Linked DNA regions of Homo sapiens. The protein of the gene in region 3 interacts with the protein of the main gene of each other region in a pairwise test. Each region holds a gene or a part of one and is shown on either strand. Other genes may lie near its edges. The genes, in order: PPARGC1B, ZZZ3 and ZNF212.

Evidence for each region.
Region 1: the proteins of ZNF212 (region 3) and PPARGC1B interact in a two-hybrid assay, tested with the Homo sapiens proteins (one large-scale study listed by BioGRID and IntAct).
Region 2: the proteins of ZNF212 (region 3) and ZZZ3 interact in a two-hybrid assay, tested with the Homo sapiens proteins (one large-scale study listed by BioGRID and IntAct).

The regions. Positions count from the first base shown.
Region 1 is NC_000005.10:149,827,768-149,831,419, forward strand, and holds part of PPARGC1B (peroxisome proliferator-activated receptor gamma coactivator 1-beta), read left to right. Parts: intron 1-2,999; coding exon 3,000-3,116; intron 3,117-3,652. UniProt on the Homo sapiens protein: Plays a role of stimulator of transcription factors and nuclear receptors activities. Activates transcriptional activity of estrogen receptor alpha, nuclear respiratory factor 1 (NRF1) and glucocorticoid receptor in the presence of glucocorticoids.
Region 2 is NC_000001.11:77,634,139-77,637,790, reverse strand, and holds part of ZZZ3 (ZZ-type zinc finger-containing protein 3), read left to right. Parts: intron 1-3,652.
Region 3 is NC_000007.14:149,252,879-149,256,258, forward strand, and holds the end of ZNF212 (zinc finger protein 212), read left to right. Parts: intron 1-680; coding exon 681-1,537; 3' UTR 1,538-2,728; downstream 2,729-3,380.

The DNA.
Region 1 (3,652 bases), on a different chromosome or scaffold from region 3:
AGAACATCAGATTTTATCAGATTTTCAAAGGAGTCTGGAACTCAGAAGTTACTGGAAGCAGTCGCTCTCAATCCGGGCTGAGAGCACCCATAGCTGAGCTGTCCTGGAGTGTGAAGTCTAGCTTTGCTCAGCCTGTCTTGGGCCCCTCCCTTGGTGCTGTGGCTCCTGGAGGCTGGCAGGACTCAGCTAGAAAATCAGAGCCTGTTGGAGCCGGGAGGGTTCTTAGGTTATGGAGAGTTTGAGCTGGAAAGGCCCTTGGTGACCCTCAAGCCCAGCTCTGGAAAAACTGTGGCCCAGAGTGGGGAGGGTATCTCCAGTAGTCACACAGCAAGTCAGTGTGCCAGCAAAGACTAGAACTCAGGTATTCACTCCTAGTCTAGGACCCTTTCCCTTCCTTCCCACTGCCTTCAAGTTCCCCAAAGCAGCGTGAAGCACCCACCATGCCAGGCACAGAATATGTTCAGTCCCACATTATGGCTCCTGCCGAGAGGGGGTCCTGCTTCATTTCAGACTGGAATCGAAGCACCTAGGTTTGAATCCCAGCCCTGCCATTTAGTACTTGTATGTCCCTTAGGCATACATCCTGAACCTCTCTAAGCCTCGGCTTCCTGATCTATAAAGAGGGGTTAATAATAGTGCCTATGTCAAAGGCTATTAGGAGGATTACAGCAGATAATACACATAAAGCACTTAGAACAGTGCCTGGCACATAGAGTTGCTCAGTAAATGTGAACTAATACTTCTGGTACAACCATTAGTGGTAACAAGCATTCTAGTGCCATTTCTTCACGGGGCCTTTGGAGAAGAACCAAAGCTTAAAGAGGCAAAGCGCGACCCCTGCTGGTCAAAGGTTGTTTCCCTCCCATGCCTTAGATTACCTTCATTCCCTACATGCTTATTGAGTGCCTCTGTTTCAGCCATTGTGCAAGGCACACAGGAAACAGACTTGCTGTCTAGACTCCCTGCATACCGACAGAGATCTGGAAGGGCCCTGAGGGACCGGGCACAGTGGCTTATACCTGTAATCCCAACACTTTGGGAGGCTGAGTGGGAGGATCCCTTGAAGCCAGGAGTTTGAGACCAGCCTGGGCAACATAGGAAGATCCATCTCTATGATTTTTTTTTTTTTTTAAATTAGCCCGGTATGGTGGCACGTGCCTGTAGTCCCAGCTACTCTGGAGGCTGGGGTAGGAGGATTTTCTAAAGCCAGGAGTGTGAGGCCTCAGTGAGCTAGGATCATGATACTGCATTCAAGCCTGGGTGACAGAGCAAGACCCCATCTCTTTAAAAGACAAAAAGCAAACAAACAAAAAGGCCCTGAGAAGTCATCTGGACCTCAGGTTGGGCCATGGATCCCAGAGAGTCCAGCGATGGACTTGTAAGGACCTGTGGACCTCTGTGTGTCTGTGTGATTTTCTGAGGTCAGCAACTTCTGTCATATTCTTAGAGTCAAAAAAAGAGGTTTTAATCCAGCCATGTAGTCTCTCTGCCCCTGCTCATTACACCAATGGAGGAATCAAGGCTCTCACAGTGCACCGGGCCTGAGCCAGGCTAGAATGAGGTCTCTTTCCCCCAGTCCTAGGATCATTTCCCATCGAAAAAGTCACAAACATGTGGGTGCTGGTTTGGGGTTTAGGTGGGGTAGCCAGGATCCTGTGGCTCCTCAAGAGTGTGGAGTGGCCTTTTCTCTGGCTCCTGGCCTTTGGCATTCCTTGTTGGAGTGACTTGGGGTGGCATGTTCCCCAGGGAAACTCTCCGTGCTGTACTAAAATCTCATGATCTTTCTCAGTTTGTTATCAAGCTTGGCTAGGATCTCCGGCGGAAAATCTAGATGTATTCAACTTCCTGCTCTCTCAGCTCAGGTACACTCTGTACCTGCCCTCAGGGTGCAGAAGCAGAAGAGCTTTTACAGTTTTTATAGAAAAAAAAAAAAAAGCCAAACAAGCTTAAGTGTAGTCTTCCACTTGTGTAAAAACAACAGGGTAGGGCCAGGCACAGTGGCTTACGCCTATAATCTCAGCACTTTGGGAGGCCGAGGCGGGCAGATCGCTTAAGGTCAGGAGTTTGAGACCAGCCTGGCCAACATGGTAAAACCCCATCTCTACGAAAATACAAAAATTAGCTGGGTGTGGTGGCAGACGCCTGTAATCCCAGCTACTTGGGAGGCTGAGGCAGGAGAATCGCTTGAACCCGTGAGGTGGAGGTTGCAGTGAGCCGAGATCCTGCCACTGCACTCCAGCCTAGGTGACAGAGACTGCATCTCAAAAAAAAAAAAAAAAAAAAAAAAGAAAAAAAAAAAAAAACAGGGTGGGTTGGAGGTAATGACTACATACATATACTTGCATAATGAAAGCCCACCTCATGATAGGTTCACCGAAAAGTAGTTAGTGGAGTTGCCTCTAGGAGGCAGAAGGGGACTTTGAGCAAGAGAGAGACTTGCTTTTAATTGTCTGCCCTTTAGTATTTGTGATGTGTCTTCTTTTTTTTTTTTAATCATTTACAAGTATTACCTTGCTTAATTTAAGAAATTAATTTTTAGAGGTAATATGAATAAACAGAAAGAACAAAGGGGAAATCAGCTAGAATCCCATACCAGAGAATCATTTTGGTACCTAACCTTCCAGATTGTGTGTATGTGTGTGTGTGTGTGCACTCAGAATGTCCCAATAAAACTGTATCATAATATTTTAACAGTAGAATAGACAGACGTTACCCAAGACCTGCTTGAGTTTTTCTAAGTCATAGCTATTCCCTGGGGTTATTAACTCTGAAAAGGATTTGTATGTTATTAGCATACTTACGTGTGTTCGGGATTGTTAGACAATCTACCATCTGCACCTAGTATCTTGGGATCATCATCCCAGGTCATGGAATGCCCACCCTGTGTTCTCCCTGTGGTCCTGTGATGCCCAAGGTCAGTCCTGAGGGGCTGGCCATGCAGTCCATGTCCTCTGGCTGTGGCTCAGCCCCGGCTCCTGTCCTCTCTGCTTTTCCCTCAGCTGCAGAAGCTCCTCCTGGCCACATCCTACCCAACATCAAGCTCTGACACCCAGAAGGAAGGGACCGCCTGGCGCCAGGCAGGCCTCAGATCTAAAAGTCAACGGCCTTGTGTTAAGGTATTTCTTCACATGCCCCCAAATCTACCCCAGGTGTCTGTTGGGGCTGCAGCCTTCAGCTCTGGTGGAGGATAGCGAGTTCAGTCAACCTCCAATATCTCTTCCCACTCCTCCCACAGCCCTTGTAGCTGGTGTCCTGGGCACTGCTTCTGGAGATCCAGCCTAGTTTAGGGTTTTCTGGAAGGAGCCCTGGACTTTCTCACACTTTAGTGTTCCAGACACTGGTAGATGTTAATGCAGCTTAGAGCAAGGATGAGGAAAGTGTGGCCAGGCTTCAGAGGACTGTATTCCAACAGTGTGACAGACCAAAATGCAAGATTGCGCTGGTTGTGGAGGCCACAGTAAATAGTTTGGATTTTTTTTCCCCCCTCAGGGAGCCCATTGGAGGGTTTAAAGCTCTGCCATAGACATCCAGGGTCAAAGAACATCCCTTTTCCTCCTTGAGCCCCATCTTCCAAGCCTAACAAGAAGAGGCGTAACAGGTGTTTTTCAAAGGGTCCTGTCCTCAAAGGCTACACACAACCCCTCCTCTTCCT
Region 2 (3,652 bases), on a different chromosome or scaffold from region 3:
TAAGAAACATTTTGCAATGCAGCTAAAATGAGGAAAACAACTGCTTTAGTCTATAATATTTTGCTAAGCTTGGCAAAACAATGTTGAGACTTGGTTGAGATAATACAGACTTTTTATTTTTTATTTTCTAACAGAAAGGGTCTCACTATTGTCCAGGCAGTTCTCAAACTCCTGGGCTCAAGTGATCCTCTTGCCTCAGCCTCCTGAGTATCTGTGACTGTAGGTGCCCCCACTTCCCTGCCCCTGCACCTGGCTAATCTAGACATTTTTGGTCCCTTTTTATTAACTGAATTTTGCACTCAGTTTATTAGATAATTATAGAAAGTGTGTACCTTTATATATGCCTATCCAAAATAGAAAAGATATGAAGAAAAAGGTTAGAACAGAAAAAAATGATCAGAGGGAAGATTAGCAAAATTTTGTTTAACTCTGATCTTAATAATTTTAACCAGTTTATTACCTCAAGTGCACATCACATGTTAATTTCAGGTAAGATTTTTTATAGTCTTCCATTTGGTGCTTCCTTGGTCTTATTTATAAATTTTTTTATTATTAGGATCCAGTAAGAAATTAAAGGGTATTTTATAAATAGTTCTAATTTAGTTTGAAACTTGATGACTATTATCTTATTAGAATTCTGTCTGGGTTCACTAGCCTAAGGCAGTGCTTCTCAAACCCTAATACATACATGAATCACCTAGGAGCCTAATTCGTTGGTAGGTCTGGGGCGGAGCCTCGTATTCTGCATTTCTAACAAGCTTCCAGGAGATGCCCGTGATTGAGCTGCAAGAGCCTGAGGTACCACAAGGATCCTTGTTATAAAACAAGTTCTCTTTCAATACAGCCCAATAGCACAGAATTTGACAATCCTAGCACTAGGGCTTTGTTCTAGTTATTGAGTGAAATAAAAGCATTTTTAGGGTACAGAAGAAATGGAAAGAACCTTAATCTTTTATATTAATCAGTGTTTTCATATTTTATTTAACTTTTGTATTAATCAGTGTTTTCATATTTTAATCAGTGGAATGGTGAAAAATTAAGATAGGCCTTACTATACGTGATTTTTTTTTTTTTTTTTTTTTTTTCAAGACAGGGCCTTGCTCCCATCACCCAGGCTGAAGGGCAGTCACATCACTACACCCTTGACTTCCCAGGCTCAAGTGATCCTCCCACTCAGCCTCCCTAGTACCTGGGACTACAGGCAGGCTTCACTACACCTGGATAAATTTTTTGTATTTTTAGTAGAGACAGGGTTTCGCCATGTTGCCCAGTTTGGTCTCGAATTCCTGGGCTCAAGTGATCCACCTACCTCGGTTTCCCAAAGTCCTGGGATTACAGGCCTGAGCCACCATGACCAGCTTATAGGTGATATTTTATAGTAAAGAATATATGTATAAAAAAAAGGTTTTTAGTACTACTAATAATAGGTTCATTTCATCCAAAATAGTCTCTCTTTGAGAAGTTTGTACTGCAAGGCAAATTTTGCTCCCATTCAGATTGGTGTGGAAAGAAAAGGTTAAGGAAGTCTTATTATTGGAATAATTTAAGAGGTTTTTATGCCCTTAATTGGGATTGCATTTTAAAAAGTAAAGACTAACAGATTCTTTTGTGTGTTTATAAAGTATTTCTATTGTCAGTATTATTTTTGAACCATAAATTATGAGTATAGTTGAATTTACATTAAAGATAATATGTATTAGATTTTGTAGGCATTTTAGTTATTAAATTTAACTTAGCCTTATGCTTTTTTTGTGCATTTACATACATATTTAATATTTAAAAATAAGTAATCTTAACCCTTTAGAGTGCCAGATTTGGATACATGAAACAAGTAAGTTGCTTTTCATGTATTTCAGTTTGTGTTCTTTTCTTTTTATTTTTTTTTGAGACAGAGTCTCGCTCTGTTGCCCAGGCTAGAGTGCAGTGGCGCGATCTCGGCTCACTGCAACCTTTGCCTCCTGGGTTCAAGCGATTCTCCTGCCTCAGCCTCCCGAGTAGCTGGGATTACAGGCATGTGCCACCATGCCCTACTAGTTTTTGTATTTTTAGTAGAGACGGGGTTTCACCATGTTGGCCAGGCTGGTCACGAACTCCTGACCTCAAGTAATCCGTCTGCCTTGGCCTCCCAAAGTACCGGGATTACAGGCATGAGCCACTGCCCCTGGCCAGTTTGTGTTCTTTTAAAACATCATTTGAAGTTTAACTTAAATGTTTTACAATTAAAAGTGGAAAATTATGGGACACTCAGTGTTTGTTACCCATGAAAGAAACAGATTGTAATCTTCATGATAATATATTAGCAAACGATAATTAAATGTCAGCTGTTCTTTTAATGAATCCCCCAAACAATGAAAGTTTACTACTGTAAGAAATGTGTTTCTAAGTTCTGATTTGTGTCTTGTACTTATTGTTCACTTGGTTGCTATGAAATTCTGTAGAACATATAACCATGCTTTAATTCCAGGGCTAGTTTTGTGATTCTTATAAGATTTAAAAAAATTGTTAATTAAAAATTTAAAAGTATGCCATACTTTGAGACAACACTAAACTCAGGCAACTTAAATATTTTACAGGGTACTTTCTCACTTAATTCACTTGTCAGCAGGCAGGAACAGGGAGATTATTTCCTGTAGTGTTTCTTTTTTATATGTGGTAGCATGTTGCTGTGTCTTCTATAATTCTTCCAAACTTTCCACTGTTAGATAGTTCTAGTTGAAGCAAGGAGAAATTGTGTTTGATTTTTAGGGGTAGGAGTCAGAATGGCATTTGGAGGTTTACATGAGAAGGGAGACTGTTGATGACCAAAGGCAGGAGGAAGGGACTGTGAAACTTTGCACTATTGCCACCACTGGCCTCTTTCTCTAACTAATCATCCTGCATCTCATTCAAAGTTAGGAAATAAAATGACAGGGTACCTTGTGAAAACTAAACAGAAGAGGAGTCGGGGAATAGAGACTTCAAATATTAACAGCTCCTTTATTCTGCTTGATGGGAGAGCCTCTGGAAAATATCACCAAATCACTAGTTTACCCAAATGGATCAATCAAGGCATTTTTCTATATCCCTTACATTTCTGTCATATAAACCTCAAGCATCCACACCAGAATACCTGCTCATCTCCCAAACCACACATTAAAACTGGCACTGGCATATGCTATACACAGGAGTTCAAAGAAGGAAAGGGTGGGATTACAGGAGTAGTCTTGATTTCTTAAATGTAAGTATTTGCTTCAGAGGCTTCTTCCCCATTTTCTTTTCTGGTCTTTGGAACACTCCCTTTCACTTGCTAATTTATGGCTTTATTTCTAGAGACTAGGAAGGCTTGGGTTTGCTTTGTTTTGTTCTTAGCCAATGCAAGCTAGCATTGTGATTTTTGTCTATTTAGTTATGAAAAATTATACTGCAATAAAAAATTTTTGGATGCCAGATTATTATTAAGGGATTTGATCTGAAACTCATTTTAGCAAAAGTAAATTAAAAAGAGGAGAGCCTGCCTTTCTGTATACCGGGAACATTTTGAAAGAACACGAGAAATGATTGGAATAGTTTTTTGAAAGATAGCTGCTATATAAGTTCAAGATTATTATTTTATTTATTTTATTTATTTATTTATTTATTTTTTTGAGACAGTCTCACTCTGTCGCCCAAGCTG
Region 3 (3,380 bases):
GCTGACTTGGTGACCTCATCTGGCATCTGCTTGTTCTGGACTCCTTTATGATTGTCGTTAGTTCAGCTGTTACATATGCCTCAACTCCTACCACCCTGTGGGGTCTTTAAGACTAACGGCCACATCAATCATTATTCTTCATGCCCTACAGAATAGAGTACCGTACGAGGCGGTAGTCAAAACCTGCTGGAGATTGAGCGTAGGTATGTCAGAGCTTCAGGAGGGAAGGCAGTGCAGGAAAAGCACTTGTCAGTAGGTAATTTGGGAGGTTATGGAGGAAGAACAGAGCTGGACATGAATTCTTAAGCTGTAGGTTTAGTTTGTCTTTAATCATTCAAATTTGTTATTTTAACACTCTTAATTGAGTATAGTTGTTACAGTGTATTCTGTCATTTTTCACAGGGATTAAATATAAATTTGTAGACAAGCTTGGAGAACTATCATTTACAGTATTGTTTTATAAGAGTAATACATTTATATTTCCAATCAACATTGGAAAAACTGTACATGAATATAGTTTTATAGAAGTCTTGGAACCTAGCCAGTGTCATCCTCCTCCACGTTATCCTAATTCACTTATTCCTGGGGTGCTTCTGAAATTCACAGATGTTTGTTTGGTCCTGAAGAAACCAAAGGTACTAGAATGTGATCTTTTTTGTTGGTCTTCTTCCACTTTGCAGCAGGTGGGGTCATGATCAAACAGGAGCTACAGTATACACAGGAAGGCCCTGCGGATCTTCCTGGAGAGTTCTCATGCATTGCTGAAGAGCAGGCTTTCCTGAGCCCAGAGCAGACCGAACTCTGGGGTGGTCAGGGCAGTTCTGTCCTCTTGGAAACAGGTCCTGGGGACTCTACTCTAGAGGAGCCTGTTGGTAGTAGAGTTCCTAGCAGCAGCAGAACTGTGGGCTGCCCGAAGCAGAAATCTCATAGGCAGGTACAGCTGGACCAGGAATGTGGGCAGGGCCTGAAGCTGAAAAAGGACACTTCCCGCCCCTACGAATGTTCTGAGTGTGAGATCACCTTCCGCTATAAGCAGCAGCTGGCCACACATCTGCGCAGCCACTCTGGGTGGGGGTCTTGTACACCTGAGGAGCCAGAGGAGAGCCTTAGGCCCAGGCCACGGCTGAAACCACAGACCAAAAAGGCCAAGCTGCATCAGTGTGATGTGTGCCTGAGGAGCTTCAGCTGCAAGGTGAGCCTGGTGACCCATCAGCGTTGCCACCTGCAGGAGGGGCCCAGTGCCGGCCAGCATGTCCAAGAGAGGTTCTCACCCAACAGCCTGGTTGCCCTGCCTGGCCACATCCCTTGGAGGAAAAGCCGGAGTTCCCTCATCTGTGGTTACTGTGGCAAGAGCTTCAGTCACCCATCTGACTTGGTGCGGCACCAGCGCATCCACACGGGTGAGCGGCCCTACAGCTGCACTGAGTGTGAGAAGAGCTTTGTCCAGAAGCAGCACCTCCTGCAGCACCAGAAGATCCACCAGCGGGAGCGGGGTGGGCTGGCCCTGGAGCCCGGAAGGCCCAATGGCCTGCTTTAAGGGTGCAGCCCCTCGCCCGTCTGGGGGATGGAGGGGGGTGGCATTGGTTCCCCCGAAGAGACACTGCAGTCAGGGACTGAGTTCTTCCTGAGGGCAGTTGTTTGTGATTGCCTTCCCTTGTCCCAGTACCAAGCCAAGCCCAAAGGCTGTCCTGAAAACCCTGTGGAAGAAGAGTCCAGGCCAGGTCTTCATCCTGCTGCCAAGTTTGCTGTTTCTTGGCACCTTCAGGTCTCTGGTTTTCTCATTCATGCCAATGCTTGTGGGCTGGGGTTGGCGTTCTGACCCCACAGGGACTGGTGGCTGGTTCCAGGGCTCGTCCCGGCATTTCATGTCTTCCCACGGGGTTGAGTCGGGCCATAGGGGTGAGCAGCTGCCTGGAAGAGTTCTGGGAAGTATAACCCTCCATTTTTTCTTGTTTTATAATCTCTTTGTTTAATAATAAGTAGAAGAAATAATTTAAATGAACTGCTTAGCCCTGCTCTGAAGAACCTTTTTTGGAATTAGATTTTAGTTGATTTTTTAAAGAATACAGCCCAACACTTGTTTTTTACATTTTAAGAGTTGTAGAAGTTGTTCCTAACTTGGGGACTGGACCTACCCTCTAGGAGGGAGTTGTTAATGGGGCTCTTTTAGCCCACTGATGCTTACTTAGGCCGGAGAGCAGGGGACACGGTGCTAGGTTCCCTCGTGCAGTGCCTGGTGCTCTCAAATTGTCTCAAAAGGACCAAGAGGAAAAGAGTCGGAGGGGTAGACCCTGCAGCCCTGTTGAGAAGAAAGATTCCAGTGAAGTTGCTGATGGTATGGCTGTGGTCTGGGACTTGCGGTGTCTCGGCATACCCCTCTCCTCTTCCCACCTCCTCCTGGCTATGTTCTGCAGCCTCCCAGAGTAGAAAACTACTTTGTTACTTAAGGTTGTTCACCTTGTACCAGTGGTTATTTGAGTTTGTTCCTATTACACCAATCCTTACTTGAGGTGGTTCGGATTACAGTTTCCAAATGCATTCTGGGATTGCCTATTCCAGAGAGGGTACAGAAAAAGCACACAGATGGCTTGTCTCAGGAGTGTTGAATGTGTGCCCCGCTGCTGTCTGGGGGGATGGGAGTGGGCTCTGGGGTCATATGTGAACATCCCCTTGGATGATTTGCGGTTGCTTAGAATAAAACTTGCTACTAGCAAAAGAAAAAAAAAAAGTTCATACTGGATGTTTTTCTCCGTTTGTCAAGAACACTCTCCTGGGGCCAAGGTGGAGGAGAGGCACCTGACCTGGAGTGATGACAGGGAAGGACTGATGGCACAGCCTAACCTGCACTTTTACTTAAACCTAGGACAGAAGACAAGATGTGGCATGGGTGAAAATTTTCAGGGGACTGTACTTATGATGGTGGAGAGCTGGAGACAGTCTGGGTGATGGCTATTGGGAGGTAGAAAGAGTAGGTGAAATGTGGGTACCCCAGGGAGTGCCAGGTAGCTGTTACGAGCATTGGCTTAGATATATGCGTAGCCATCTGGATCCATCTTAAACACAATGCCGAGGGGAAAAGGTAAGAAATTGAGATCTATAATGTAACACCATTTATATAAATTAAAAATGCATGTACACAAAACATTTTGTAAGAACACTTGGGACCAAAGGAGACCCGTTAAAAGACATTACAGTTTTCCACGGGGAGAGCGAGCAAATAAGTAGAAGGAAACTTGGCTTGCTGTAAGGCAGGGGTCCCCAACCTTTTTGGCACCAGGACTGGTTTCGTGGAAGACAGGTTTTCCACAGACAGTGGTGGGGGACGGGATGGTTTTGGAATGAAACTGTTCCACCTCAGATCATCAGGCGTTAGATTCTCA